2 separate regions of the Homo sapiens genome follow, and region 1 is linked to region 2. The links come from fine-mapping of genetic effects on gene expression. A gene starts in region 2. The other region holds a variant in brackets. All regions are shown on one strand. Distances are between the middles of the regions.

Evidence for each region. PIP is the estimated chance that this variant, and not a neighbour inherited with it, causes the effect.
Region 1: its variant is fine-mapped to the expression of ATF7IP2 in whole blood (TOPMed, PIP 0.99).

What each region holds. Positions count from the first base shown.
Region 1 is chr16:10,322,709-10,338,031 of GRCh38, reverse strand. No RefSeq gene overlaps it. Among named protein-coding and RNA genes, the nearest start is that of ATF7IP2, 56 kb to the left of the region's middle. RefSeq lists silencers at 6,273-6,473, 8,186-8,480 and a cis regulatory region at 14,569-14,890. The variant C/T (reference allele first, on the strand shown) is at 8,573.
Region 2 is chr16:10,377,366-10,392,688 of GRCh38, reverse strand. ATF7IP2 (activating transcription factor 7 interacting protein 2) reads right to left here and starts at 6,628. Exons shown (of 14, transcript NM_001393719.1): 1 at 6,567-6,628. RefSeq lists silencers at 6,750-6,889, 9,935-10,004 and an enhancer at 10,205-10,274.

The DNA.
Region 1 (15,323 bases), 55 kb after region 2:
CCCAAATTTCTAGATTGTAGGCTTGAGCCACTGCACCTGGTCAGCAAGCTACTTCTTTTTTTTTTTTTTTTGACGGAATCTCACTCTGTTGCCTAGGCTGGAGTGCAGTGGCGTGATCCTGGCTCACTGCAACCTCTGCCTCCTGGGTTGCAGCAGTCTTCCTGCCACGGCCTCCCAAGTAGCTGGGATTACAGGTGTGTGCCACTACACCCAGCTAATTTTTGTATTTTTAGTGGAGATGGGGTTTCGCCATGTTGGCCAGGCTGGCCTTGAACTCCTGACCTCAGGTGATTCACCCACCTCAGCCTCCCAAATTGCTGGGATTACAGGCGTGAGCCACCGCGCCCGGCCTGCAAGCTACTTCTTTTGTTGGCTCCTGTATTGCATACATATAAGCCGTTTTTCTCGTGTTAATCTAGCTTTCTTCACCTTAATTCGCAGTCCGCCACACCCCCCACCACCCAAAAGAACCTAAAAGGGTAGAGGAAAAGTTTTTCCTCCTCCACACCATAAATAGTCACAAGTCAGGCTTTGCTACCAAATGAGTTCACTGGGGAAAAAAATCAATTTAGTTTTAAAACTATTTTGGATGTGAATTTTGGAAGTGCACTTAAGAGGAAGTGCACTTAAAGAACTTGGGTCAGGTGCAGTGGCTCACACCTGTAATCCCAGCCCTTTGGGAGGCTGAGGTGGGCGGATCACTTGAGGTCAGGAGTTTGAGACCAGCGTGGCCAATGCGGTGAAACCCCATCTCTACCAAAAATATAAAAAGTTAGCTGGGTGTGGTGGTGCATGCCTGTAATCCCAGCTACTGGGGAGGCCGAGGCAGGAGAATCACTGGGACCCAGGAGGCAGAGGTTGCAGTGAGCCTAGATCATGCCACTGCACTCTGGCCCAGATGACAGAACAAGACTCTGCCTCAAAAAAAAAAAAAAAAAGTGCTGGGCGCAGTGGCTCATGCTTGTAATCCCAGCACTTTGTGAGGCTGAGGCGGGCGGATCACGAGGTCAGGAGATCGAGACCACGGTGAAACCCTGTCTCTACTAAAAATACACACAAAAAAATAAGATTAGCCAGGCGTGGTGGAGGGCGCCTGTAGTCCCAGCTACTTGGAGAGGCTGAGGCAGGAGGATGGCGTGAACCCAGGAGGCGGAGGTTGCAGCGAGCCAAGATCGCGCCACTGCACTCCACCCTGGGTGACAGAGAGAGATGCCATCTCAAAAAAAAAAAAAAAAAAAAAAAAAGAATAGCAAGGGTGGAGGGTTGGCTGTGGGTGGGGAAGTTTTGAAAAATGTTACCGGAATATACTTACCCATTGCTACTGTGAATATATAAAGACGTATGGCATATAAGATCTTCTGGTGCCAGGCATGGTGGCTCACACTTCTAATCTCAGCACTTTGTGAGGTTAGCTTGAGCCCAGGAGTTTGAGACCAGCCTGAACAACATGGCAAAATCTTGTGTCTATGAAAACTACAAAAATTCGCAGGACCTGGTGGCGCTCACCTGTAGTCCCGGCTACTCAGGAGGCTAAGGTGGAAGAATCACTTGAGCCTGGGAGGTCAAGGCTGCAGGGAACCCTGATCATGCCACTGCACTGCAGCCTGGGAGACAAAGTGAGACCCTGTCTCAAAAAAAAAAAAAAAAAAAAAAAGATGTTCTTGCAGTTTTCTTATGATTTGCTCTACGGTGTGATTAATAACAGTTGCTGTTGCAATAATTCCTGCTATATTTTGACACAGTGCTGTGAAAAGAAATCCAACATGGAGGCCAGGCGTGGTGGCTCACGCCTGCAATCCCAGCACTTTGGGAGGCCGAGGTGGGCGGATCACCTGAGGTCGGGAGCTCGAGACCAGCCTGGCCAACATGGAGAAACCCTGTCTCTATTAAAAATACAAAATTAGCTGGGCATTGTGGCACATGCCTGTAATCCCAGCTACTAAGGAGGCTGAGGCAGGAGAATCGCTTGAACCTAGGAGGCGGAGGTTGCGGTGAGCCGAGATTGCGCCATTGCACTCCAGTCTGGGAAACGAGCAAAACTCCGTCTCAAAAAAAAAAAAAAAGAAAGAAAGCCAACGTGGAGATGATTTGTCGGAGGTCTCTGTCAAGGAGCCAGGAGGGCAAAAGTTGGCCCTCAGTCATATATGGATCCAGAGGGATCTGACCTGTTTGAACTGGGCCAGATCGCAAACGTTCTGGAGAAGCAGCTTCATTGGGTTTGAACTGCTCACACTGGGGCAGATCACGAACCTCCTGAAGACACAGCTGTGCTGAATTTTAAGCTGATCATGGCCTAGAGTCTTTCTAAGCTGTCAGCTGGCCTATAGGGGGAGGAAAAAACAAACAAATGAAAAAAACAAGAAGAAATGTTTTATTCAAGGAATACAGGCCCCTTTAAGCCATCAGGCCAAAGAGGCATTGAAATGAAACAGCAGTTAGGTTACTTCCCTTTGAATTAATAATCACCTTATTTTTTATTTTTTTTTTTCAGAGACAGGGTCCGCCTCTGTGGCCCAGGCTGGACTGCAGTGGCACCGTCACAGCTCACTGCAGCCTCCCCCTCCTGGGCTCAAGTGATCCTCCCATCTCAGCCTCCTGAGTAGCTGGGACTGCAAGCACACACCAGCATGCATGGCTAATTTTTAAATTTTTTGTAGAGACAGGGTCTCACTGTGTTGTCTAGGCTGGTCTCAAACTCTTAGGCCCAAGCAATCCTCTGGCTTTCACCCCTGAGTAGCTGGGGCTACAGGTGTGCACCACCATGTCCGGCTAAATTTTTAAAAAGTTTTCAGCAGAGATATAGTCGCCCTATGTTGCCCAGGCTGGTCTCACACTCCTGGGCTCAAGTCATCCTCCCACTTCAACCTCCCAAAGTGCTGGGATTACAGGCTTGAGTCACTGCACCCAGCCAAATAATAATCACCTCTTGAAGCCACTTGCTGTGTGGCTTCTACACTTAACTAAGGCCACGTACCCCTAAAATACCAAATGCCCTACAGTTCACCAATATATAGCCAATCACTAGCCAATGTTATTTCTGTAAACCCATGAGAATTCCTAACAATGTTTGTAATCACCCTCTCTCCTCATTGGTTATTTTTTCTTTAAAAACTTCAGCCTCTCTAATGTCCTCTGGAGCACGCCCCACAGCAAGTTGGAAGTGTGTCCTGGACTGCTGCCCTCAACCTTGACCCAAATAAACTTTATATTAATATTGTCTCAGCTTCTCCCTTTGAGGTTGACAGGTCATGTGTCAATCACAGACTGTGCTACTGTCTTCCGCTTAGGTAAACTTGCAGTAAACCTTTAGAAACCCCTGCCTAGAGTCTTGCCTGGCTGAAACACGTTTTAGCTACTTGCTAGATTTGTTTCTCCCAAATTGCAATGCATAAAAACCCTGATTAAAATGCCTTCCTGGGCCAGGTGCAGTGACTCACGCCTGTAATTCCAGCACTTTGGGAGGCCAAGGATGGTGGATCACCTGAGGTCAGGAATGCCAGACCAGCCTGGCCAACATGGGGAAACCCCATCTCTACAAAAATACAAAAATTAGCCGGGCATGATGGCGGATGCCTGTAGTCCCAGCTACTCAGGAGGCTGAGGTGGGAGAATCATTTGAATCTGGGAGGTGGAGATTGCATGGAGCTGAGATCACTCCACTGCACTCCAGCCTGGGTGACAGATCGAGACTCTGTCTCAAAAATAAAATGGGCGGGGCACGGTGGCTCACGCTTGTCATCCCAGCACTTTGGGAAGCCGACATGGGCAGATCACAGGGTCAGGAGTTCGAGACCAGCCTGGCCAACATGGTGAAGCCCCGTCTCCACTAAAAATACAAAATGAGCCGGGTGTGGTGGCGCATGTCTGTAATCCAAGCTACTCGGGAGGCTGAGGCAGGAGAATCACTTGAACCCCTGGAGGCAGAGCTTTCAGTAAGCTGAGATCGTGCCACTGGACTCTACCCTGGATGACAAAGCGAGACTCTGTGTCAAAAAAATAAAAATAAAATAAAATAAAAGTCCCTCCCTTTGTTTGTGGCTCCCCAGTGTTGGTTGATAGTGCATGGATGAAATGTATAATGCCTCCTGAGTTCTCCTGCCCTTCAGGAAGGTTTTTTACACATATAGTGGCCTCAGATGCATTTCTTGATTTGGAGTTGAGGGTGGAATCTTGGCAGAATTGACAGAAGAGGCACCAGTGGGACAGAGGAGGGACAAGGGGAGCAACCTTTTTTTTGTTTAATAATGAGGGGGGAGGCGATGGCCTTCTCCTCCTTCCTCCCAGGGTGTCTCCTTAAAAACATAACAGGCCCCACAAAAAGTTGAAGGAGTGAAGAACGTGCCAACCCAAAATATGCTAGATTGGCATATTGATTATTTCGAGTTGAAAACATTGATGAAATTGTGGTTGGTATGTTTGCTTGTTTTATTTATTTTGAGATAGAGTCTCATTTTGTTGCCCAGGCTGGAGTGCAATGGCGCAATCACAGCTCACTGCAGCCTTCACCTCCTGGGCCCAAGCATTTGTCCTACTTCAGCTTCCTGAGTAGCTGGGTCTGTAGGTGTGCATCACCACACCCACTCAAGAGGAAATATACACTTTTTTTTTTTTTTGAGACGGAGTCTCTCTCTGTGTCACCCAGGCTGGAGGGCAGTGGTGCGATCTCGGCTCACTGCAACCTCCGCCTCCCGGGTTCAAGCGATTCTCCTACCTTAGCCTCCCAAGCAGCTGGGACTACAGGTATGCGCCATCACGCCCAGCTAATTTTTGTATTTTTAGTAGAGACGGGGTTTCACCATGTTGGCCAGGATGATCTCGATCTCTTGACCTTGTGATCTGCCCACCTCAGCCTCCCAAAGTGCTGGAATTACAGGCATGAGCCACCCCATCCGGCCCACATTTTATTAGTTTTACATGTACATGGGGATCTTCACAAGAAACAAAAAAATGATTCTTTTTTTTAGATGGAATCTTGCTCTATTGCCCAGGCTGGAGCGTAGTGGCGTGATCTCAGCTCACTGCAACTTCCGCCTCCTAGATTCAAGCAGTTCTCCTGTCTGAGCCTCCTGAGTAGCTGGGATTACAGGCACACACCACTACGTCCAGCTAATTTTTGTGTTTTTAGTACAGAAGGGGTTTCATCATGTTGGCCAGGCTGGTCTTGAAGTCCTGAGCCCAAGTGATGTGCCTGCCTTGGCCTCCCATAGTGCTGGGATTACAGGTGTCAGTCACCGTGCTCGGGCCCAAGAATGTGATTCTTCACGAGCAGGAAGATTGGTTGGGCCCAAGAGTTTGAGACCAGCTAGGCAACATAGCAAGACCCTATCTCTATAAAAAGAAAAGTGAAATAATTATCTGGGCTTGGTGGAGCATGCCTGTAATCACAGCTACTTGAGTGGCTGAGGCAAGAGGATGGTTTGAGCCCAGGAGTTTGAGGCTGTAGTGAGCTATGATCATGCCACTGCACTCCAGCCTGGTGACAGAGCAAGAGCAAGACCTTGCTCTAAAAAAAAAAATTAAAAAGGGCTAACTGACCTCTCTCTTTGTGCATGCAGCAGGCCATAAAAATTCCTCTGGGAGGAGGGCTGTCACATACCAGGGTGAGAAAATAGCCCTTATCACCAGAGACTGGGAATTGGGGACTGTGATGGACCTGAATAAACATACTTAATGAAACAATCTTTATCTTCCACTGTTTGACACCCCCATATATCTCCTAGCAACTCCCCTAGAAAATTTATTGCCCTAGCCAGGTTTTCCTGTCATTTCTTCTCAAATGTAATCTAAATAGTGTACAAATAGTATACAAGCATCTATCTTTAGCCACTTGTTTGAACTTCACGCTATTATGAAGACCCCCATGTACAGGTAAAACTAATAAAATGTATATACTTTTGTTAATCTGCATGGTGTCAATTTGGTGTCTAGATCCAGCCAAAGAGCCCACATAGGAGCTAAAGGGGAGCTGGAGGTGACCACTGGCTCCTTTACAAGGTCCAGCCTTTTGATTTCATAGCACAAAATCATGGGCTTTCTGAGGCCAGGCACAGTGGCTCATGCCTGTAATCCCAGCACTTTGGGAGGCTGAGGAGACCGGTGATCATAAGGTCAGGAGTTTGAGACCAGCCTGACCAACATGGTGAAACCCTGTCTCTATTAAAAATACAAAAATTAGCTGGGCATGGTGGCACGCACCTGTAATCTCAGCTACTCAGGAGGCTGAGGCAGGAGAATCGCTTGAACCCGGGAGGTGGAGGTTGCAGTGAGCCGAGATCACACCACTGCCCTCCAGCCTGGGCGACACAGAGCGAGACTCCGTCTCAAAAAAAAAAAAAAAAATTATGGGCTTTCTGATCCTTGGAACTGTAAACACGCACCTCCAAGGCTGACATAGAAGGAGGAGTACAGGAGGCAATCCAGAGATAAGATTTTCTTTTAAATTTTTATTTTTTTGGAGACAAGTCTCACTCTGTTGCCCAGGCTGTAGTGCAGTCATTCCATCATAGCTTACTGCAGCCTCAGGCTCCTGGGCTCAAGTGCTCCTTCTGCCTCAGCTTCCTGAGTAGCTGGGTTATAGACGCGCACAACAAGCCTAGCTAATTTATTGTTTACTTTTTGTAGAGACGGGGTGTTGCTCTGTTGTCCAGGCTGGTCTTGAACTCCTGGGTTCAAGTGATACTCTCGCCTCAGTCTCCTAAAGTTCTGGGAGTACAGGAGTGAGCCACTGCACCTGACCCAATAAGAGATGCTTCAATTATTCTCTCTTCTACTTTTCTGTAAATTCTGTTCAGATTTTGTCCAGACTATCAGAAAAAAAAGAAAGAAAGAAAGAAAAGAAAGAAAGAAAAAAAAAGGAATCAACAGGTCAGAGGCAAATAAGCATTTATTCAGGAATGGGGGTTGCAACCAGGCCCCAGAGACCACCACCCAAGAGGGACAAGAAAGGCTTATAGGAAATTTTTCAGATGACATAAATTACCAGATTATTTTATTGATGGATTAAGCAAAGAAGTTGTTAGTCATTAGTGGAAGGGTACATTTGGGTCAGTTAGGAAAAAACTACACAGACTGTCCCTAAAGATTAGGACCAGATTCCTTGTATTGTATATTGTCGAGAGCATGGTTGTTTGTGAGAGAACTGTTTTTCACAGTTCTTTGTGGGTCTCAAAGTCCACCACCCAATCTAGGCACAGTGGCTCACACCTAAAATCCTAGTACTTTGGGAGGCTGAGGCAGGCAGATTAGCCCAGGAGTTCAAGACCAGCCTGGGCAACATGGTGAAACTCTGTCTCTACAAAAAATACAAAAATATTAGCTGGGTGTGGTGGTGCACACCTGTCGTTCCAGCTACTCAGGAGTTTGAGACAGGAGGATTGCATAAGCCTGGGAGGTTGAGGCTGCAGTGAGCCACTGAGCCATAGTCGTGCCACTGCACTCCAGCGTGGGAGACAGAGACTCTGTCTCAAAAAAAAAAAAAAAAAAAAAGTTCATCATTAGTTCAGTCTGGGGTCAGTAGCCCAAGATAGAGTCCCCGATGTCAAGCGTAGAACAATGCTCTATTCAAACACTCAAATGACCTGTGACAGAGATTCTCTTCTTCACCAAACTCTACTCAGGTTCTCCTAAACTCTTTGTCCAGTAGGTTTCAACTTTTGGAGTTCCGTGTTGATAAAAAAAAAAAATTTCAGGCCGGGCGTGGTGGCTCACACCTGTAATCCCAGTACTTTGGGAAGTTGAGGCAGGTGGATCACCTGAAGTCAGGAGTTCGAGACCAGCCTGGCCAACATGGTGAAATCCCATCTGTACAGAAAATAAAAAAAATTAGCTGGGCATGGTGGTGGGTGCCTGTAATCCCAGCTACTTGGGAGGCTGAGGCAGGAGAATTGCTTGAACCCGCAAGACGGAGGTTGCAGTGAGGCGAGATTGCACCAGTGCACTCCAGCCTGGGCGACAGAGCAAAACTCTGTCTCAAAAAAAAAAAAAAGAAAAGAAAAGAAAAGAAAAGAAAAGAAATGGAGAAGTAGAGCACATGCTCAAAGCACCTTCTCCCTGAGGGTATGGTGAAGGGGGGTTTTTAAGGTCTCTTAGAACATGTAGGTGGAGACTGGGGGGTGGTGATTTATGGAAAAAGGTGGGACCTTCCAGGGAGAACTGGAGCATGCACAGTCTCCTTCTTTCTTTTCCACTGGCACTATATATGCCTAGCAAAGCACATTTCTCCCCATCCCAGGTGAATATTTTCATACAGCGAAAAAGCAAGGATTCAGGTCCGGGTAGCAGGATGGTAGTGTTTACTATACAGACTCAGACTTGGGAGCCACAGTTCTTATCCTGTGGCTCGTTTGTGGTTACTGACATCCGGCCTTCATTTCTGTAAGCAAGCACATCTGCAAGCACAGGTTAATGTCACAAGTTCTGGGGCTTTTTTTTTTTTTTTTTTTTTTATTCTTTGAACGGAGTTCCACTCTGTCGCCCAGGTTGGAGTGCAATGGTGCAATCTCGGTTCACTGCAACCTCCACCTCCCAGGTTCAAGCGATTCTCCTGCCTCAGCCTCCCGAGTAGCTGGGATTA[C/T]AGGCATGCACCACCATGCCTGGCTAATTTTGTATTTTTAGTAGAGATGGGGTTTCTCCATGTTGGTCAGGCTGGTCTCAAACTCCAGGCCTCAGGTTATCTGCCCAGCTTGGCCTCCGAAAGTGCTGGGATTACAGGCGTGAGCCACCATGCCCGGCCTATTTTTATTATTTTCTTTTTGAGATAAGAGTCTTGCAGCCGGGCGCAGTGGCTCATGCCTGTAATCCCAGCACTTTGGGAGGCCGAGGCAGGAGGATCACGAGGTCAGGAGATCGAGATCATCCTGGCTAACGTGGTGAAACCCCGTTTCTACTAAAAAAATTAGCTGGGCGTGGTGGTGGGCACCTGTAGTCCCAGCTACTCGGGAGGCTGAGGCAGGAGAATGGCATGAACCCGGGAGGTGGAGCCGAGATGGGGCCACTGCACTCCAGCTTGGGCAACAGAGTGAGACTCTGTCTCAAAAAAAAAAAAAAAAAAAGAATCTTGCTCTGTCACCCAAGCTGGATTGCAGTGGTGCTATCTCAGCTCCCTGCAATCTCTGCCTCCCAGATTCAAGCGATTCCCCTGCCTCAGCCTCCCGAGTAACCAGGAGTACAGGTGTTTACCACCATGCCCAGCTAATTTTTGTATTTTCAGTAGAGACGGGGTTTCGCCATGTTGGCCAGGCTGGTCTGGAACTCCTGACCTCAGGTGATCTGCCCACCTCAGCCTCCCAAAGTGCTGGGATTACAGGTGTGAGCCACCATGCCAGGCCTATTATCTTTAAACCAAAATTAGGGATGCCTTTGCTCTCCAGATATCGGGATATCTGGACACTCCCAAGTCTGAGTCTGTTCGGTAAACACTATCAATCTGTTCCCTTAACTGTAAACATCTAGAGGCTAGGAATACCTTTCTGGGAATGCAGCCCCGTAAGTCCCAGCCTCATTTTCCTAGCCCTCACTCAAGATGGAGGCATGCTGGTTTTAAGGCCTCTGACAAAAGCAGTGGTTAGAATCTGGGCTCTAGGCCAGGTTGAAGCTGCAGTGAGTCATGATTGCACCACTGCACTCTACCCTGGGTGACAGAATGAGACCCTGTCTCAAAAAAATAATAATAGGCCGGGCATGGTGGCTCATGCCTGTAATCCTAGCACTTTGGGAGGCCGAGGAGGGTGGATCACCTGAGGTCAGGAGTTTGAGACCAGCCTGGCCAACATGGTGAAACCCCGTCTCTACTACAAATACAAAAATTAGCAGGGCCTAGTGGCGGGCGCCTGTAATCCCAGCTACTCGGGAGGCTGAGGCAAGAGAATCGCTTGAACTCAGGAGGCAGAGGTTGCAAAAAGCTGAGATCACACCATTGCACTCCAGCCTGGGAAACAAGAGTGAAACTTCATCTCAAAAATATAATAATAATAATAATAACTAATACATAAAAATTGGGGGCTCTATAATACCTAACTTAGCAGAGGACAGGTGGGAGGGGGCAGTGAAAGGGCATTTATGGAAAAGCAAATGACTTTTTGGAAGGATGAATGGGCCCTTATGAGAACAGATAGGAGATATGATGGTCTTGTGACAATGAGTGCTTGGGTGTGCTGGCGACTCCTCTCTGAGAAGAGTAGAATTGTTCCTGGGAAGGGGATTTATGACAATTGAGTTTCTTTGACTTATTTTAGGGGTTTTAGAAAATGAAATGCCTTCAGCTCAAAATAATTCTTATGTCAAAGTGGCATATTTTAGGGTAGCATGTCCTGATGCTCTTCACTTGGAATACAGGCAAAGAAGAATATGTGGGTTCTGGCTGGGCATGGTGGTTCACACCTACAATCCTAGCACTTTGGGAGGGCAAGGCAGGAGGATCCTTAAGCCCAGGAATTTGAGACTACCCTGGGCAACACAGCAAGGCGTTGTCTACAAAAAAATTAAAAATTAGCTGGGTGGCCGGGTGTGGTGGCTCATGCCTGTAATCCCAGCACGTTGGGAGGCTGAAGCAGGTGGATCACTCGAGGTCAGGAGTTTGAGACCAGCCTGGCCTACATGGTGAAACCCTGTCCCTCCTAAAAATAAAAAAATCAGCTGGGTGAGGTGGTGCACGCCTGTAGTCCCAGCTACTTGGGAGGCTGAGGCAGGAGAACCACTTGAACGCGGGAGGCAGAGGCTGCAGTGAGCCAATATTGCACCACTGCACTCTAGCCTGAGTGACAGAGTGAAATTCTATCTCAAAAAATAAAAATAAAGATAAAAAAAATTAGCTGGGTGTGGTGGCACATGCCTGTAGTTTCAGCTACTTGGGAGGCTGAGACGGGAGGATCGATTGAGCCCAGGAGTTGGAGGCTGCAGTGAGCTATAATCATGCAACTGCACTCCAGCCTGGGTGACAGAGCGAGACCCTGTTTCAAAACAAAACAAAGAATATGTGAGTTTCACCTTGAGAGGCCTTGAAGGTTACTCCTGTTGGTTCTCAGAACATGATACTCCGATATGTGGCATCTTGGCAACTGAAATAGCCTCAGAAGCAAGAAAGCGGCTCTGACCCTCCCCTACCTTTCAGTGTGAGAGCCGGCCATAAAGGAATTCTCTGGCTGATTGCAAGTGCCTTTGCAAAAATTATAACTGAGAAAATTATAACAGTGAAAGAGATCTGACCCAACCGACTCCATCTTGGTTCTCTCCTCCAAGCTGTCCTTGTTCATTCCTGGGCATAGGCTAAACTATGGGAGAAACTTAATTTATAGTTTAACTTAGAAACAAAGATGATAACAGCCTTTTCCCAAAACAAACCCCCTTCCGGCCTGGGGACTAGACTGCCTTTGCAGGACCAACAAACTAGCCACAAGATTAGAAATTATGGTTTAGGGGTCATGTAGCTAGAGGGTGCAAGATTCTGAACCTCTCCAAATTGCTCCTGGGGGTAACATCACTATCATAAAACGTAAGATCAGTGTTTGATATATTTTGCAGACCTTGTACCTGATGGATCAGCTGGTACCACCCAGATCGATAGACTGGCTCATCTGGTCTAGTGGCCCCTACCCAGTAACTGACTCAGCGCAAAAGGACAGCTTCCACTCCCTATGACTTCATCTCTGACCTAACCAATCAGCACTCTCCACCTTCCAAATGTCCACCCATCCAATTATCCTTAAAAACCCCAATCCCTGAGTTTCTGGGCAGCCTGATTTGAGTAATATTAAAACTCTGGTCTCTCGTACAGCTGGCTCAGTGTGAATTAAACTCTTTCTTTATTGCAATTCCCCTGTCTTAATGCATCAGTTTAAATTGGCTCTGTCGAGGCAGTGGGCAAGGAGAATCTGTTACACAGTTACATTACCTTGCCTGAAAGTAGGACCTAAGATCCTCATTCTGTCAGAGGCACTTGAACCAGAGCAACTCCATCTTAAATAGGAACTGGGTAAAATGAGGCTGAGACTTACTGGGCGGCTTTTGCAGGAGGCTAAGGCATTCTTAGTCACAGGATGAGATAGGAGGTTGGCACCAGATACAGGTCATAAAGACCTTGCTGATAAAATAGCTTCCAGTAAAGAAGCTGGCTAAAACCCAAAACCGAGATGGCGATGAGAGTGACCTCTGGGTGTCCTCATCGCTATGCTCCCACCGGCACCATGACAGTTTACAAATGCCATGGCAACGTCAGGAAGTTACCCTATATGGTCTAAAAAGAGGAAGCATGAATAATCCACCCCTTGTTTAGCATATCATCAAGAAATAACCACAAAAATGGGCAACCAGCAGCCCTTGGGGCTGCTCTGCTTATGGAATAATAGCTATTCTTTTATTTATTTTTTTTATTTTTTGAGATGGAGTCTCACTCTGTCGCCTAGGCTGGAATACAATGGCGTGATCTCGGCTCACCACAACCTCCGCCTCCTGGGTTCAAGTGATTCTCCTGCCTCAGCCTCCTGAGTAGCTGGGATTACAGGCACCCAGAGCCACACCTGGCTAATTTTTGTATTTTTAGTAGAGACGGGGTTTCTCCATGTGGGTCAGGCTGGTCTCCAACTCCCAGCCTCAGGTGATCCACCTGCCTTAGCCTCCCAAAGTGCTGGGATTACAGGCATGAACCACCATGCCTGGACCATTTGTTTATTTTTTTAAATTTTCCAGTAAACTTGCTTTCACTTTACTCTATGGACTCGCCCTAAATTCTTTCTTGAGTGAAATCCAAGAACCCTCTCTTGGGGTCTGGAAAGGAACCCCTTTCTGGTGACAATTCCAGAGAGATCCTGCTCTATGCCCAGAGGCCCTGCACCACCCCCAGTTTATTAACAGTAGATCATACTCTTCTTGTCAAATCATCTTTGTACACAACTGTTCATTTTCCAGTGAATCTCAGCATAAAAATACAGTTTCCTCTGGGTCTTTGTTTCTGAAGGCTCTCGTGTCATGCAAAATTTTGTTAAATTCATTTGTTATGTTTTTCTCTTATTAATCTGTCTTTTGTTGTAGGAGTGTTGGCAATGACCCTTGTAATGGGTGAGGATAACTTATTACCTTTTCACTCCTACGGTAGTTAATTATCCTCTAAATGAAGTTGAGGTACAAGGAGAGGATTAAGTGACCACTGATTGAGAAGAAGTGGCTGCATGTATGGCAGATTGACCTACACCCACCATTCCCTCCATAAAATCTCCTGGCTAAGCATGGTATACTGAATGCCACAGCTAGTAGCCCTCTGTACCCCTCAATGTTCTCATTTATAAAAGAGAATAACACTTTTATATCCAGCTAACTTCTGTATTTTTAGTGGAGATGGGGTTTCACCATGTTGGCCAGGCTGTTCTCAAACCACTGACCTCAAATGATCCACCCGCCTCGACCTCCTTAAGTGCTGAGATTACAGGCATGAGCCACTGTGGTTGGCTAGAGTAGTTGTCTTAAGGATTGACAAAGAGCCTCCCCTTGACCAAGCTTTAGGGAGATTCATCGAAATCCTCTTCCCAGTTAGGTCTCAACTCTTGGACTTCCATGGTGTTTTTTTTTTTTTTGTATCGCCCAATTTTAGCAAGAATCCTGCTAAGTCAGTTTAGCCAGAATCCTCAACCCTGGATATCTGATCACATTCCAGATCACCCTGGCTTACCTGCAGCAAGAGTCCTGTTAGGTCCATTTAGCCAGAATCCTCTTCTCTTACCACTAATGTTTCCTTTAGCTAATTTTCCACTCATGGATCCCTACCCTGTTTCTGGGCTATAAATTTCCACTTGTCTTTGTTGTATTTGCAATTCAGCCTATTTTTTTTTTCTTTTCTTTCTTTTTCTTTTCTTTCTTTTTTTTGAGATGGAGTTTCATTCTTGTTGCCAGGCTGGAGTGCAAATGGCACGATCTTGGCTCATTGCAAGCTCCACCTCCTGGGTTCAAGCAATTCTTCTGCCTCAGCCTCCCAAGTAGCTGGGATTACAGGCACACACCACCATGCCTGGCTAATTTTTGTATTTTTAGTAGAGACGGGATTTCACCATGTTGGCTAGGCTGGTCTCGAACTCCTGACTTCAGGTGATCCTCTTGCCTCAGCCTTCCGAATTGCTGGGATTACAGGCATGAGCCACCTCGCCTGGCTGAGCTGGGGTTTTTTTTTTTTTTTTTTTTTTTGGCTAGTGTATTTATTTTCATTTTAACATCTTTCTATAGACTTTGCTTTTGAAATGGCCACTACTGAATTCCTATGCACAGGCCAATATTTTTGTCTGATCATAGGGAGTTTCCACAGAAACTTTCCGAAACTGGGTATTGATAATGGTCATAACTGTAGATTTTTGTTAGTTCTGGTTTCTCTGTGCAAATATACCTGCAGGTAAAAAAAGATGGGTGGACCAGGGGAAGAGCTTTAGGGAGGAGAGAAAAAAATCTGTGACCCTGCCAACCAAAAAGTGAAATTACAAGTGCTAGCACTTAGAGAAATCACGGTTAGATTTACTCTGAGTCAAGTTGGAGGACTGAAGCCTGGGAACACATACTCAATATAGACCAAGAATCTGTCCCAATGTAGGTTGTGCAAGGCACAGTATATACACATTTTCAAACAGGAGGATGTGTGTGGCACAGAAGGTAGGAGAAGAGGGGAGAGAAGCAAGGGTTACATTTTTGTGATTCTCATTGGTGCTCCGTGACTGTATACATAAGATAAGGTAAAAGAGCAGTTGAGCGGGTCAGGAGAAAGGTTAGGCATCTTAGGGCCTGGTGGAGGGTGGCTGATTCCAGCCTGTCTTTGTTCTACCTCAGATAAACAAGTTTATACCCAGTACCTGTCAGTGAAATGTTTAACAAGCTCCAGTTACACAGGCACACAGGCAAGAGGTCAGCTTTAGTTTATAGGCATAGGGTTTTTTTTGTTGTTGTTGTTTTGTGACGGAGTCTCGCTTGGTTGCCCAGGCTGCAATGCAGTGGCATGATCTCGGCTTACTGCAACCTCCTTCTCCCAGGTTCAGGCAATTCTCCTGCTTCAGCTGTTGCAGTAGCTGGGATTACAGGCACCCATTACCTCACCCAGCTAATTTTTCTATTTTTCAGTAGAGACGGGGTTTCACCATGTTGGGCACGTTGGTCTTGAACTCCTGACCTCAAGTGATGCACCCACCTTGGCCTCCCAAAGTGCTGGGATGACAGGCATGAGCCACTGCACCCGGCCATATAGTCATAGGTTTATAAACCATGTGCCTAACTGTAGCTATTGTGGGTCACTGTTAACAGTTTCTTTTGAATTTTCCTTTTTCTGACAACCCCATGACCCATAAAAACACGAAAAGGAA
Region 2 (15,323 bases):
ATGTTTATAATTTTTATATCAATGTTAATGAGAGATGGGTCTATTTTATTGGGTGTTGATATCAAAGGTTTGCTGACCTCATACAAACTACAAAGTCTTTCTAGTCTCTGAACAATTTCTGTGTGAATGGTGTTATTTTTCCTTAAATATTAGAATAATTAACCACTAATGCCATTTGGGCCTGGGGTTAACTTAGTGGTAAAGGTTTTCCATTAAAATTGAGGTAGAACCAGCTGGGAGCAGTGGCTCACACCTGTAATCCTAGCACTCTGGGAGGCCAAGGCTCAAACAGCCCAGGAGTTCAAAACCATCTTGGAGATGTCATCTCCAGTTTAAAAAAAAAAAAAAAAGGCCAGGCGCAGTGGCTCATGACTATAATCCCGGCACTTTAGGAGGCCAAGGCATGTGGATCACCTGAGGTCAGTAGTTCAAGACCAGCCTGACCAACATGGCGAAACCCCATTTCTACTAAGTACAAAAATTAGCTGGGCATGGTGGCGGGTGCTACTTGGGAGGCTGAGGCAAGAGAATCACTTGAACCTGGGGGGTGGGGGTTGCAGTGAGCTGAGATCTTGCCCGTTCACTCCAGCCTGGGGAAAAGAGTGAAAATCCGTCAAAAAAAAAAAAAAAAAGATAATACAACCATTCATACTTTTTATATCTTTTGGTGTCAATTTTACCTATTTTTCCATTTCAACACAATTTAAAATTTGTCAACACAAAGTTCTTATAGTATTCTCTAATTGTATGTGTAATACCTGTAGTGCTGTCCCTCCTTTTCTTTTTTTTTTTTTAAACAGAATCTCACTCTGTCACCCAGGCTGAAAGGCAGTGGCACGATCTCAGCTCACTGCAACCTCCACCTCCCGGGTTTAAGCAATTCTCCTGCTTCAGCCCTCCAGCAGCTGGGACTACAGGCGTGCACCACCATGCCCAGCTAATTTTTGTATTTTAGTAGAGATAGTGTTTCACCATGTTGGCTAGGCTGGACTTGAACTCCTGACCTCAGGTAATCCACCTGACCTGGCCTCCTAAAGTGCTGGGATTACAGGCATGAGCCACTGCACCCGGCCTCATTCTTGATATTAGTGATGTGCTTTTCTCTTTTTCTTGATCATTTTTATTAAACATGTACCAAGATTGTCAAAGTCAACAAAAATACAAAAAAGACAAAAAGAGGCTGTCAAAGTACTTTAAGTTTGCTAGCTTCCTATTATACAGTGTTCCATTTCATAATTTCCTGCCATATTCCTTTTCTTTTTTTATTTGACACAGAGTTTCACTCTTGTTGCCCAGGCTGGAGTGCAATGCAAGATCTCCGCTCACCGCAACCTCTGCCTCCTGGGTTCAAGTGATTCTCCCATCTCAGCCTCCTGAGTAGCTGGGAGCCACAGCGCCTGGTCTTTTTAAAATTTTTATTGCCCAGGCTGGTCTTGAACTTCTGGGCTCCAGCAATCCACCCACCTCAGCCTCCCAAAGTACTGGGATTACAGGTGTGAGCCCCCACGCCCAGCACATTTTTTTTTTTTTTTGAGACAGGGTCTCTCTCTGTGGCCCAGGCTGGAATGCAATGGCGCGATCATAGCTCACTGTAACCTTGAACTCTTGGGCTCAGCAATTCTCCCATCTCATTCTCCAGAGTAGCTAGGACTACTGGCGCATGCTACTGCACCCAGCTAATTGTTTTTCATAGCGATGGGGTCTCATTATGCTGCCCAGGCTGGCTTCAAATTCCTAGGCTTAAGTAATCCTCCAGTCTTGGCCTCCTAAACCATTGGGATTACAAATGTGAGCTACAATGCCCTACCCTCCTTCTGCTTTCTTTGCGTTTGCTTTGCTGTTCTTGTTGCAGCTTCAGGTAAAAACTCAGATATTTTTTCAGTCTCTCTTTTTCCTTTTCATTTTTAGAGTCACACTTTGTCACCCAGCTGGAGTGCAGTGGCATGAACACAGCTCACTGCAACCTCAAAATCCTAGGCTCAAGTAATCCTACTGCCTCAGCCTCCCAAGGAGGTAGGACTACAAGTGTGTCCCTCCATGGCTGGCTAATTTTACAAAACATTGTTTTGTAGAGACAGGGTCCTGTGTAATGTTACCCAGGTGGGTCTCAAACTCCTGACCTCAAGTTATCCTCTACCTTGGCCTCACAAAGTGGTGGGATTACAGGCATGAGTCAGCATGCCCAGCCTATTACCTTTTTTTCTAATTTCTCACTTAAAGCTGTAAATTTTCCTCTAAGCCCTACTTTAGTTGAGCCCACAAGTTTTGAAAAACTCTACCTTATAATTTGATATTTATCCAATATTCTCTAAGATGCATTGTAATTTTTTAACCTGTAGATTATTCACAAGCATGTTACTTTCCAAGCAATAACATATTTCCTGTATCTTTGTGGTTAAAAGTTAGCTTAATCTTTTTTCCTGTTATAGTTCGAAGTTATGGGTGCATGCTGATTTAGTTGGGTTTTTTCCTGCTTCATTGGGTTTCTCCATTATAAAACATCTCTGTTCTCCAGTGATGTTCTCCAAGGTAGTATCTTAATACATAATAAACACTTTAATAAGAACAATTCTCATTAAATTAAAAAAAACTACTGAACTGAATTTTTACTGTTACTCTTTTTAAAAAGTAAAAATTTAGAAAAAACCCATTTAACTAATCTTGTTCAAAGTCAGGTACTTCAGCCAATATTTGAACGGAGGGTCTTAAGACTCGAAGAAGTCTATCACAAACACAAAACAGTTATTATGAAGCGACAGGGCCCTTTAAGAGTTATATAGTGGTTAACAAAATAACAAAACTCAGGCCAGGTGGCAGTTAATCTCATAATGACCATGAAGTAATGCCAAGTGTGGTTCATAGACCAGCAGCATCCGCATCACCTGAATGCTAATAGAATTCTGACATTACTTTTTTCAAGTTTTATCAATGTAATAGTATAAAATGCTCATTATGAAATAAAGCAGTTGCTTGCCAGCACTCCCGAATATCTAATGGCAATCACTTTAATTTTAACAACTTGTTTTTAAAATCTCAGTATTTTAAAATATTTTCATACTGTTTCTTGAGTTACAAATTTTAGCCATGTCGATTTCCTGTAATTGCAGATGAAGATTTAGCTCACATATGTATTTTTTTTGGAGGTGGGTTGGAAACATTTTAATTGGATGGTAGGGGATGGTAACACTGGACGGGGAGCACTCACAGTTCCAAGAGTTTCCCTCCAAATTATAAAGACGTTCTTGTAATTAGCTAGATTTCCTATAGCCAGGTCTTATGCCCAAGGGAAGGAGGGGAGGATGTGAAAAGCACTGTGGTCTGCCCTCCTGTCATTCGTAGATCCAGTTCTGTAGTTCACACGTCTCTTACAGCTCATCGTATTTTCAGTTAAATCAATATTTAAGTTGTTATAAATATTCTCTATATAGCCAGATAGACTACCATGACTACACTATCTTTCTTTCACAGTAGTTTGTCTTTTCCTGGAGATATCAACTGAACCTTCTTATAAACCTAACCTTCACTTTCCAAATTGACCAGAACTGTCATATTATCAACCTTCCCTCCTAGTCTATGCTCTTTCAAGATCAAGCTTAAAGATCACCTCCTCAAAAAAACAGCCCCGAGAGAACTACTACTTCTTTATCTAAATTTCCCACTATAATTTTTTTTTTTTTTTGAGACAGTCTTGCTCTGTCGCCCAGGATGGAATGCAGTGGTGCGATCTCGGCTCACTGCAAGCTCCGCCTCCCGGCTTCACGCCATTCTCCTGCCTCAGCTTCCCGAGAAGCTGGGACTACAGGCGCCGGCCACCACGCCCGGCTAATTTTTTTGTATTTTTTAGTGGAGACGGGGTTTCACCATGTTAACCAAGATGGTCTCAATCTCCTGACCTCGTGATCCACCTGCCTCAGCCTCCCAAAGTGCTGGGATTACAGGTGTGAGCCACCGCGCCCGGCCTACAAATATTTTTTATATCTTCAGTGACATGCCTTTCTTACAGTAGTTTTAATGCTGTTTAATGAATATTCACTTAAAAAACAAACCTCTGGAAAGCCACCCAGAGTTATTCTCTCCTTAATAACAAGTACTGAAAAGCCTCCCAAAGTCACTGTCTCCTTAGTAAAGAGTACTAAAAAGGCCTTGGCAACTTTTGCCATGGCTATCTGATAAGCTATTTCACATCAGCATACTGTACACACTAGAGCCTCAGAGGTATACTAATGAAACTTATGACCACATTTAGTAGACACATATAATGCCTCTAAATAATTCATGGCTAACTTCAGTAACACCTCTCTAAACATTTCATGGCTTAATCAGAAGTTCAAAAAAATCCAATATATTATCTCCCTTTCCTCCAAAAAGTCATGGTTATTTCTCTCTAGACACTGGCTGACTCCAATCTGTCCCATCGTTGGTAAAAATGAAGATGAAAAACTATCCTAGTCTACTGTAAAGCAGAATAATTATCTAAATGATATAAAAATATGAGATAGGCCGGGCGCTAAGACTAGCGCCTGTCATCCTAGCACTTTGGGAGGCAGAGGCGGGCTGATCACCTGAGGTCAGGAATTCGAGACCAGCCTGGCCAACACGGTGAAACCCCATCTCTACTAAAAATACAAAAACTAGTCGGGCGCCTATAATCCCAGCTACTTGCAAGGCTGAGGCAGGAGAATCACTTGAACCCGGAGGGAGGAGGTTGCAGTGAGCCGAGATCGCGCCACTTCACTCCAGCCTGAGCCAAAGAGCGAATCTCTGCCTCACAAAGAAAAATAAATAAGTAAAATAAAATAAAATAAACGAGATAGATAAGTCACCGCAGTGTGTGTGTGTCCGGGTGGCGGGGGGAGGGGGGGGGAGTAAAATAGACTGACATAGAATGAGAGAATAAGATTTTTTGGTATTTTGTATCATCTCGCTCAACAATGAGAACTAATACTCTTGCGCATTTAAAGTTGTATTTTATTTTTAACTATCCAATATATTAAACTTTGATTACATCAAATGAAATAGATTGTGCACACTCACTATAAGAGAGCTATGATATATGCAGAAGCAAAGGTGCAGGGATCATGCAATAGTTTCGTACCAGATTTCAAGATACCAAGTAGCAAGGAAACACAATGGAATTGAAGGCTGAGGTGAAGTACAGGCATAAGGCAAGGAAAGCAGAACATTCAAGATGTACCTATATACACCAGTTCTTAAAACACGCAAATCATTTCCAATAAGGCACTGGCTCATGTATTTCTGTTGAGGCAGAAGTCAATCTTAGGATGTGGTCTGTACATATCTGCAGATAAGACTGAGAGTGAAGTAAATTTGATTAAGATCGGAGTCAACACTTCTACAAACGTATTGCAGAATAAACGAGCTAAGAAGAAAGGCATACTTCACAAAAGCTGAATTCAGTGTTATTAGTCCTTCATTCAGATGCTTCATTTTTGCATTTTCAATTGCTTTCCTGTGATATAACTTATCTTTATCTTGGTCTTCCCCATTTGTTTTGCAAATAGTTATGTCGCAGGTCATTTACTGGCTACAATAAATATGACAAAATCATAATAAAAACAGTATTAAGTCGCAATCTAGAATAACAATTTAAGTGAATATGACATAATTTTTCTAATGTGGACTATTCAGTACAACTGTCCTCTTCTTCCATACATATTAACCATATGCAAGTCTTCAGAACAGAAAAAGCCATTGTGTCGTAAAGGAAGGAACACGTGGTTAGAAACTTCATTTTCAACACAGAAACACGGAAAGGTAGAAAGTCCGTTTCCTTAAGTGCGGTAAGGTTTTAACAAAAATAAGGCAAAAAAAATTATTGCGTCCTCTCTTTCTCAAACTTGCTTGCCAAACTTGGAGAAAACTGGTTAGAGAAGGGCGATAAGATGGAATTTTCTTAAAAACATATTCATAAAAACGAACTTCTACCTTAAGGAAATCGTCTTCCTTAAATCCTACCATCCTTACACCGGCAAGCTCAGAGGTACGGGATTTCAGCATTTTACTCAGAATTTTGTATTTTTCCTGATGCTCTGGTCCCTACTTTTTAACAAACTTCAAGGCCGCCAGGCGAGATCCAGTTGCCTTCTGGCACCTGACTTCATTAGATGATTAAAACAACTCAAGAAAATTTGGCAATGGGACACTAAAATTGGTGGAGGTGGAGATTTATCCGTTAATTTCTGAAAGCATTCCGGACAAGAGCGAGCTTTTACTTACCCCTCAGGACAAAAAACACGCACCACTTCCCTCCGCAGTCCCTAACCCCAGTGCCGCCCGGACCTGAGGCCGCACACCACTCCCGCTTCACCAGTATCCCTCTGCGAAAACGGTGGAGACGCGCCCGTCCGCCCCTCAGGGGCCTCTTCCCGGACCTGTCAGACGGCCCCGCGGACGCTTTTCAGTCAGGGCAGCTTCGCCGCAAACGTCCGGTAGGCCCGGCGCTCCGAGGCCTCCGGGGCCGGCCCTCAGAGAGGCGACCGACGCTCCTAGAGCCGCCACCCCGCCAATCGCCGCTCTCGCAGGACACTCGCCCGGCCCCAACGTACCTAGAGCGACGACGCACCAGCCGCAGCAATACCCACAGCCACTTCGAACCGCAGCCGTTAACAATGCTGGTCCGGCCAGGACCTGCTGAAGTAGGTCTCCCTACGCCCACCCCCAGCTGATTATGGACCAATGGCAGCGCGAATATGCGGCAGCCCAGCCAGTCAGGCACAGCCAGCTAGAGTGGGCGGGGCGAAGGGTCGCGAGGGGAAATGGAAGTAGGCTGAGGGGCGCCTGGGGTTCGCCTCCGTGGGCGCTTCTTCCGGTCAGCCACCGGGGCTTACCCGCCATAGCGCAGATGCAGGCTCCTGAGCTGGGCCTTTCTTTTGAGTGACTCGTGTGAAGATTTAGACTTTCGAAACTTATTAGGAATAAGACCTTATTTACAAAAACAACTCCTCACCCGGTCGGTAGTTTCCGATTTGAATTTTCTAATATTGTTTGAAAATATTTATCTTATTTACTTTTTTGGACGACTCCTTAAATTTTGTGACTCAGGAGATTGGTCCTAGCACCGTAGTCTTTTTTTTTTTTTTTTTTTTTTGAGACGGAGTTTCGCTCTTGTCGCCCAGGCTGGAGTTCAGTGGCGTGATCTCAGCTCACTGTACCCCCATTTCCCACCTCCCAGGTTCAAGCGATTCTCCTGCCTTAGCCTCCCGAGTAGCTGGGACCACAGGTGTGCACCACCATGCCCGGCTAATTTTTGTACTTTTAATAGACATGGGGTTTCACTATGTTGGCCAGGCTGGTCTTGAACTCCTGGACCTCAGGTGATCCGCCACCTCTGCCTCCCCATATGTTGGGATTACAGGCATGAGCCACTGCACCCACCCGCACCATAGCCTTGAGTTTGCTAAATTGTCCCAGGAACCTGCCAGCCTTGGCTGCTTGTGATTTCATGAGGCCCGATGCCTTAGGTGGCTGTGCACTTGGATGCCATGAACTCACTCAACAGGTGGTCACTGAATGCCCACTGTGTAGAAAATACAGGAAATACAACAGTAGATTAGATCCATAATGCCCTCTTTTTCATTAATTAATTTATTTATTTATTTGACAGAGTTTTGCTCTTGTTGCCTAGGCTGGAGTGCAATGGCGCGATCTCGGCTCACCACAACCTCCGCCTCCCGGGTTCAAGCGCTTCTCCTACCTCTGCCCCCAACAAGTAGCTGGGATTATAGGCATGCGCCACAGTGCCTGGCTAAGTTTTTTTTTTATTTTTAGTAGAGACGGGGTTTCTCAATGTTGATCAGGCTGGTCATGAACTCCCGACCTCAGGTAATCCACCTGCTTCGGCCTCCCAAAGTGCTGGGATTACAGGCGTGAGCCACCACGCTTGTCATGAGGCTAGAGCTGCCTGCCTTGTCACTTCCAGTTAGGAGAAAAATGAGGCAAGTCCGGACAATCTAGGTTGGGTCATCAATGGAATAACATACTCCAACCAGCCAGTTCCCCAAATATGCTCCAGGGATCTAGGGGTAATCTTTAATGTCAATCCTATTTTTATAATTATACTATTTTTATAATAATATAAAGATGATTTTGCTTTTTTCATTCTCTGAGTCAGGAGAGTACATGGAATTTTCTAGAAGCCTCTGGAAAATCGACGGGTGATATTGCTACAGATTGAATACAGAAGCAGACATGAGAATCTAACTACCAACCTGGGCAACAAAGTGAGATACCCACTTTTCTAGAAAAGTAAAAATAAAAAGTTAGCTGCATCCTTCCACCTACACGGGAGGCTGAGAGGACGGGAGGATCGCTTAAGCTTAGGAGTTAGGGACTGCAGTGAGCTGTGATAGTGTCACTGCACTCCACCCTGGGTGATAGAGCAAGAGACTGTCTTAGAAAAGAGAGAGAGAGAGGCCAAGCGCAGTGGCTCACATCTGTAATCCCAGCACTTTGGGAGGCTGAGGCAGCCGGATCATGAGGTCAATAGTTCGAGACCAGCCTGGCCAACATAGTGAAACCCCATCTCTACTAAAAATACAAAAATTAGCCGGGCATGGTGGCGCGTGCCTGTAATCCCAGCTACTCGGGAGGCTGAAGCAGGAGAATCGACTGAACCCGAGAGGTGGAGTTTGTGGTAAGCCAAGATCGCACTACTGCACCCCAGCATGGGCAACAGAGTGAGACTCCGTCTCAAAAACCAAAAAAAAAAAAAAAAGAGAGAGAGAGTCTTACTGTATTAAGTCAGACGTTAAGGAAATTAGCAAAAATGTAAAACAATCCTAATCTTTGCACATTTTTTGTTGTTCTAGAACATGATTTTGAAAATAATTATAGGGTTGCTAAGAGAGATAGTGTGGGAGGGAGTGGGAGGTAGTAAGTTGCAGTCAGATAAGGAATTTGGACTTAATTCAGTTAACAGTGAGTAACTAGCCTTTAGAAATGTTATGTCTATTTAAGGTACTAGGATATCTTGTATGTCATTTTAACAATAGTAATATAATAGGCCAGGTGGACACCTGTAATCCTAGCATTTTAGGATGCCAAGACCGACAGATAGCTTGAGCCCAGGAGTTTGAGACCAGCCTGGGCAATATAGCGAGACCCCATCTCTATAAAAAAATTATAATAATTGATATTTACTGGACATTATGTTAATAAAGTTTATTGTTGGCTGGGTGCGGTGGCTCATGCCTGTAATCCCAGCACTTTGGGAGGCCAAGGTGGGCAGATCACTTGAGATCAAGACCATCCTGGCCAACATGGTGAAACCCTGTCTCTACTAAAAATACAAAAATTAGCTGGGCATGATGGTGCGCACCTGTAGTCCCAGCTACTTGGGAGACTGAGGTAGGAGAATTGCTTGAACCTGAAAGAAGGAGGTTGCAATGAGTCAAGATCACGCCACTGCACTCCAGCCTGGTGACAGAGCGAGACTCCATCTCAATAAATAAATAAATAAATTCATTCACATAATGTGCTATATGAAGTACTATGAAGTCTCTCAATTTGCTGTTTGACTTTTTAAAATAATGCTTAACATAATAACAGATACAGTTGCTTGTACATTTCCTGACTTATAGTAGACACTTGATGTATAGTAACTATTATTATTAAAATTAATAAAGCTGAGAATATCAATTATCTTGAGTAAATTCTTTACATTTTTGTGTTGGAATGCTTTCTTGTTTGATAGTTTTCTTCCATTGAGGATTGTGGCGGGCAGAATTTGTACTCCCATGATCTTTGTCTCCTAGTGTGCGTCTTATGGTTATAAGTCACCTTACATGGCAAAAGGGACTTTGCAAATATGATTAAGGTTGTAATCAGCTGACCTTAAGATGGAGAACTTAACCGGGATTTCCCTGGTGAGTACAGTGTAATCACGTGAATCCCTAAAGGCAAAAGACAAGTCACACAGATGCAGCAGAAAGGAAAGTCATAGATTTTCAAAGCACAGGCAGAACTCAGCCCATGGTTCCTGGCTTGAAGATGAGGGGGACCACATGTAAACCTTGAGAATGAAAGTAGTACTGCCAACGACCTGAATGAACCCAGAAGCAGATTCTTCTGCAGAGCCTTAGCTGGCTGACAGCCTATTGAGACCCTAAGCAGAGTTCCCAGCTGAGTCCACTGTGCTTCTGACTTCTATATAGAACTGTGAGATAAGTGGGTAGTGTTTTAAGCCATTATGTTTGTGGTAACTTTTTATGGCAACAATAGAAAACAAATGCAAGCATTCATTCCACACACTTCTCAGCACTCCCTAAGGCAAGGCGGAAACCCTATGAACTACATTTCCCAGGAGCCCTTGCCTCCTGTATTCTGGATTCAGTTGTGTTTTACCCAGTGTAATGCACTTCCTGAAATTTGAAAAGTGGCAGAGATACATGTTATTGTGGGTTTTTTCCTTAGGCTTTGGCTCTCTTTCGCACCAGTCCCTGTCTCAGTTATTTAAAGGCAGCTGTGACAACAGTGGTTTTCTGAACTTTTCTGCCCTTTGGGCAGCAGAAGCAGCACCCTTCTTATTCTCTGGACCACAGAGGCAGCAGCACAAATGAAAACCAATGTGAGGCTGGGCGTGGTGGCTCACGCTTGTAATTCCAGCACTTTGGGAGGCCGAGGCAGGCGGATCACCTGAGGTCAGGAGTTCAAGGCCAGCCTGACCAACATGATGAAACCCTGTCTCTACTAAAAATACAAAAATTAGCTAAGCGTGGTGGCGGGCACCTGTAATCCCAGCTACTAAGGAGGCTGAGGTAGGATAATTGCTTGAACCCAGAAGCAGAGGTTGCGGTGAGCCGAGATCGCACCATTGCACTCCAGCCTAGGTGACAAGAGTGAAACTCTGTCTAAAAAAAAAAAAAAAGAAAGAAAACCAATGTGACAGTAGCTCCTCCAGCCCTTACAAACTTATGAGCATCTAATTCTCTGTACTAAATACCATTATGTTTGAAATATCTGGAGTGGTTTCATTTTTCCATGACTGAACCCTAATTAATAGACTTCTCCATGCCTGAGTTTCCTGACATATAGAATGAAATTACTAACAATATGTAACACATAGTAAAAATGTAACCATTTAGAATTATTACATGAATTAAATTACATTGACCCAATTCATGTAAAGTGCTCAATAGAGTACTTAACCAATAGTAAGTGTTCAATAAACGTGTGTTAGTATTTTATTTCCTAAGGGGCTATTAGTGTGATACCATATTGGCACTACAAAATGCCAGTTTATTCTACCTTTTCTCTAACCTATCATGAACATTCCTAGCTTGAAAACAAACATACACCAGCCTTAGCAACATAGAGAGACCCTGTCTCTACAGTTTTTTTGTTTTTTTTGTTTTGTTTTGTTTTTTGGTTAGCCAGGTGTTGTGGTGTGTGTCTATATTTCTAGCTACTCAGGAGGCTGAAGTGGGAGGATTACTTCAGCCCAGGAGTTCCAGGCTGCACTCCAGCCTGGGTGACAGAGCAAGACCAAAAAAAAAGAAGATGAAAGTAAAAGAAAAGGGGCCAGGTGCGGTGGCTCACGCCTGTAATCCCAGTGCTTTAGGAGGCCAAGGCAGGCGGATCACGAGGTCAGGAGTTCGAGACCAGCCTGGCCAACATGGTGAAACCTTGTCTCCACTAAAAATACAAAAAATTATCTGGTTGAGGTGGCAGGCACCTGTAATCCCAGATGCTTGGGAGGCTGAGGCCCGAGAATTACTTGAACCTGGGAGGCAGAGGATGAAGTGAGCTGAGACCGTGCCACTGCACTCCAGCCTGGGCAACAAAGCGAGCCTCTGTCTCAAAAAAAGAGAAAAAGAAAAAGAAAAGAAAAGAAAACACACATGCATTGTGAGGACTAAACTCTGATTTTTAAAAATGTTGGCCAAATTCCTATTTAAGGGACCTGGGGAGTCACGCCCTACAAACCATAAATTCTCATCAGTTGGGTATAAAACCCATGTATCATGACTTACTTTCCAACCTGACAAGAAAGTCAAAATATTTTACCCCAAAATATGTTTCTTTGACGTATTTTGAAATGATCCTGCAAAGCTGTCCTTTGTGGAGCAAAATGTGCATCTGTAAAGAATCTCTATTAACACAGCTAGATATTTTTCTTCCAGGCCCTCCCAATCCTGAAGAGATTAAGTAAAAGTCTAGCACCCTTTAAAGGTATGAATAGGAAACATGTGTCATCTGTTGTCTCTAAGGGCAGCCACTATAAGACTTCAAAAGAACCTTGGTCTCCACAGTCTTTTATCTTCATCTGAACACTTCTTGATCCCAGGTCTTTTTTTTTTTTTTTGGTGGAGTTTCACTCTTGTTGCACAGCCCAGGGTGGAGTGCAGTGGCACGATCTCGGCTCACTGCAACCTCCACCTCCTGGGTTCAAGTGATTCTCCTGCCTCAGCCTCCAGAGTAGCTGAGATTACAGGTGTGCACCACCATGCCCGGCTAATTTTTTTGTATTTTTAGTAGAGACGGGGTTTCACCATGTTGGCCAGGCTGGTCTCGAACTCCTGACCACAGATGAACCACCTGCCTCAGCCTCCAAAAGTGCTGGAATTACAGGCGTGAGCCACTGCACCCAGCCTGATCCCAGGTCTTTAGACAAACTCAACCAATCATCAATCAGAATGTTTAAATTTTCCTATAGCCTGGAAGCCCCCATCACCCCTGCCTTTCCGGACCAAACCAATGTTTTTCTTCAACGTGTTTGATTGATGTCTTATACCTCCCTAAAATGTATAAAACCAAGTTGCACCCCTACCACTTTGGGCACATGTTCTCAGGACCTCCTGAGGGCTGTGTCATGGGCCATGGTCGCTCATATTTGGATCAGAATAAATCTCTTCACATATTTTACAGATGGTGACTCTTTTCATAGACAATTGCCACCTCTTTATCTATTGGAGGGCTTTAGCAGCCACAAAATAACATAAGAAGTCAGAATTATATGTAGTTTTCAGACTGTCAAGTATAAAAAAAAAACTCTGAGGTTAGACTATTATGTATTGGTCTTTATTGGATTTTTTATTTTATTTTATTTTATTTTTGAGAAGGAGTTTTGCTCTTGTTGCCCAGGCTGGAATGCAATGGCGCGATCTCGGTTCACCTCGACCTCCGCCTCCCAGGTTCAAGCGAGTCTCCTGCCTCAGCCTCCTGAGTAGCTGGGACTACAGGCGAGTGCCACTATGCCTTGCTAATCTTTTGTATTTTTAGTAGAGACGGGGTTTCACCGTGTTAGCCAGGATGATCTCCATCTTCTCACCTCGTGATCCACCTGCCTTGGCCTCCCAAAGTGATGGATTATAGGCATGAGCCACCATGCCTGGCCAGATTGATTCTCTTTCAAAAGCCATATGAGGCCAGGCACGGTGGCTCACGCCTGTAATCCCAGCACTTTGGAAGGCCAAGGCAGGCAGATCACCTGAGGTCAGGAGCTCGAGATCAGCCTGGCCAAGATGGTGAAACCCTGTCTATACTAAAAATACACAAATTAGCTGGGTATGGTGGTGGGAGCCTGTAATCCCAGCTACTTGGGAGGCTGAGGCATGAGAATCGCTTGAACCCAGAAGACAGAGGTTGCAGTGAGCCGAGATCGCGCCAGTGCACTCCAGCCTGTGCAGCAGAGCGAGACTCCATCTCAAAAAAAAAAAAAAAAAAAAAAAGTCTGGAAATACAGCCATCACAGTAGGCAAAAACACTTTTATGGTGACTATGGAATAGTAACCCTTGTCTACCTTACAATTCTCATTTCTAGGCTCTTGATCTACAGCCTCTCTAGAAGACACTGTATTATTTCAAGACTTCAGGAATTTGCATTTGCTGCTTCAACTATTTGGAAAATCCTTTTCCCCCTTCCTCAAATGGCTAATGTCTACTCATTCTTCACCTTTGGTGACAAGGTTGAGTAATTGCAACAGAGACTATAAGTTCCACAAAGCCTTTTTTTTTTTTTTTTTTTTTTTTTTTTTTTTTGAGATAGAGACTCGCTGTGTCCCCAGGCTGGCATGCAGTGGTGCCATCTTGGGTCACCGCAATCTCTGCCTCCCAGGTTCAAGCGATTCCCTGCCTCAGCCTCCTGAGTAGCTGGGATTGCAGGCACCCACCACCACCACACCTGGCTAATTTTTGTATTTTCAGTAGAGACGGGGTTTCACCATCTTGGCCAGGCTGGTCTTGAACTCCTGACCTGGTGATCCACCTGCCTTGGCCTCTCAAAGTGCTGGGATTACAGGCATCAGCCACTGTGCCCAGCCCACAAAGTCTTTTAAAGAAAAGTGGGACAACCACTTCGAGAGATCATAGTAGGCCAATCCTTCCATTGACAACTACGTCTACTCATTCTTCAAATCACTTCACCTTTACCTGCAGCATAATGCTTATTATATTGTTTTTTCTCTTTCCTCATTTGTCTCTTCTTACTATTTATGAGCATTTTGAGGGTAGTGGCTCATCTTTCAGGTAATATGTAAAATAATATGGGTAAAGCACTTTAAAAAGTACCTGCCCCATAGTAAGTGCTTAGTAAAAGTTTACAACAACTATTACAAGTATAATCATCACCATCCTCTCATTATCATTTTATCTCCTTGTTTCCATTATATGACTATATAATAGATGCTCAATGAAAGAAGCTCATAAAATGAAAGAGAATAAATTCTTTCAGAAGTAGTTTTTCAACATATCTTTATAATATTTTGACAAGCATACATCGAAATAGAACAATTGAAATTTATTTAAGGCAAAATTATAGATAGCAACATAATTGCTGATTACGAATGCAATATTATATTATAGGATAGAAATACTGTTATCGTGAATGTATTTCTTAAAGTATGATTACTGTGATGGTTAAATTTTATGTGGTAACTTAGCAAGACTATGATACCCAGTTGTTTGAAACATAAGTCTAGATATCATTGTGAAAATATTCTGTAGATGTGATTGACATCTATAATCAATTGACTTTAAGTAAATTACCTTAAATAATGTGTGTGAGCCTAATCCAATTAGTCCAAGATGTTAAGAGAAAAAACGGGCTTCCCAGAGAAGGAATTATGCCACAAAACTAACATAGAAATCCTGCCTCAGACCAGGCACAATGGCTCATGCCTATAATCTCAATACTTTGGGAGGAGGAGATAGGAGGATGGCTTGAGTCCAGGCGTTTGAGACCAGCCTGGGCTGAACTGAGACCCCATCTCTACAAAAATAAAAATAAAAAAATTATCTGGACTTGGTGGCTTACACCTGTAGTCCCAGCTACTTGGAAAGCTGAGGTGGGAGGATCTCTTGAGCCC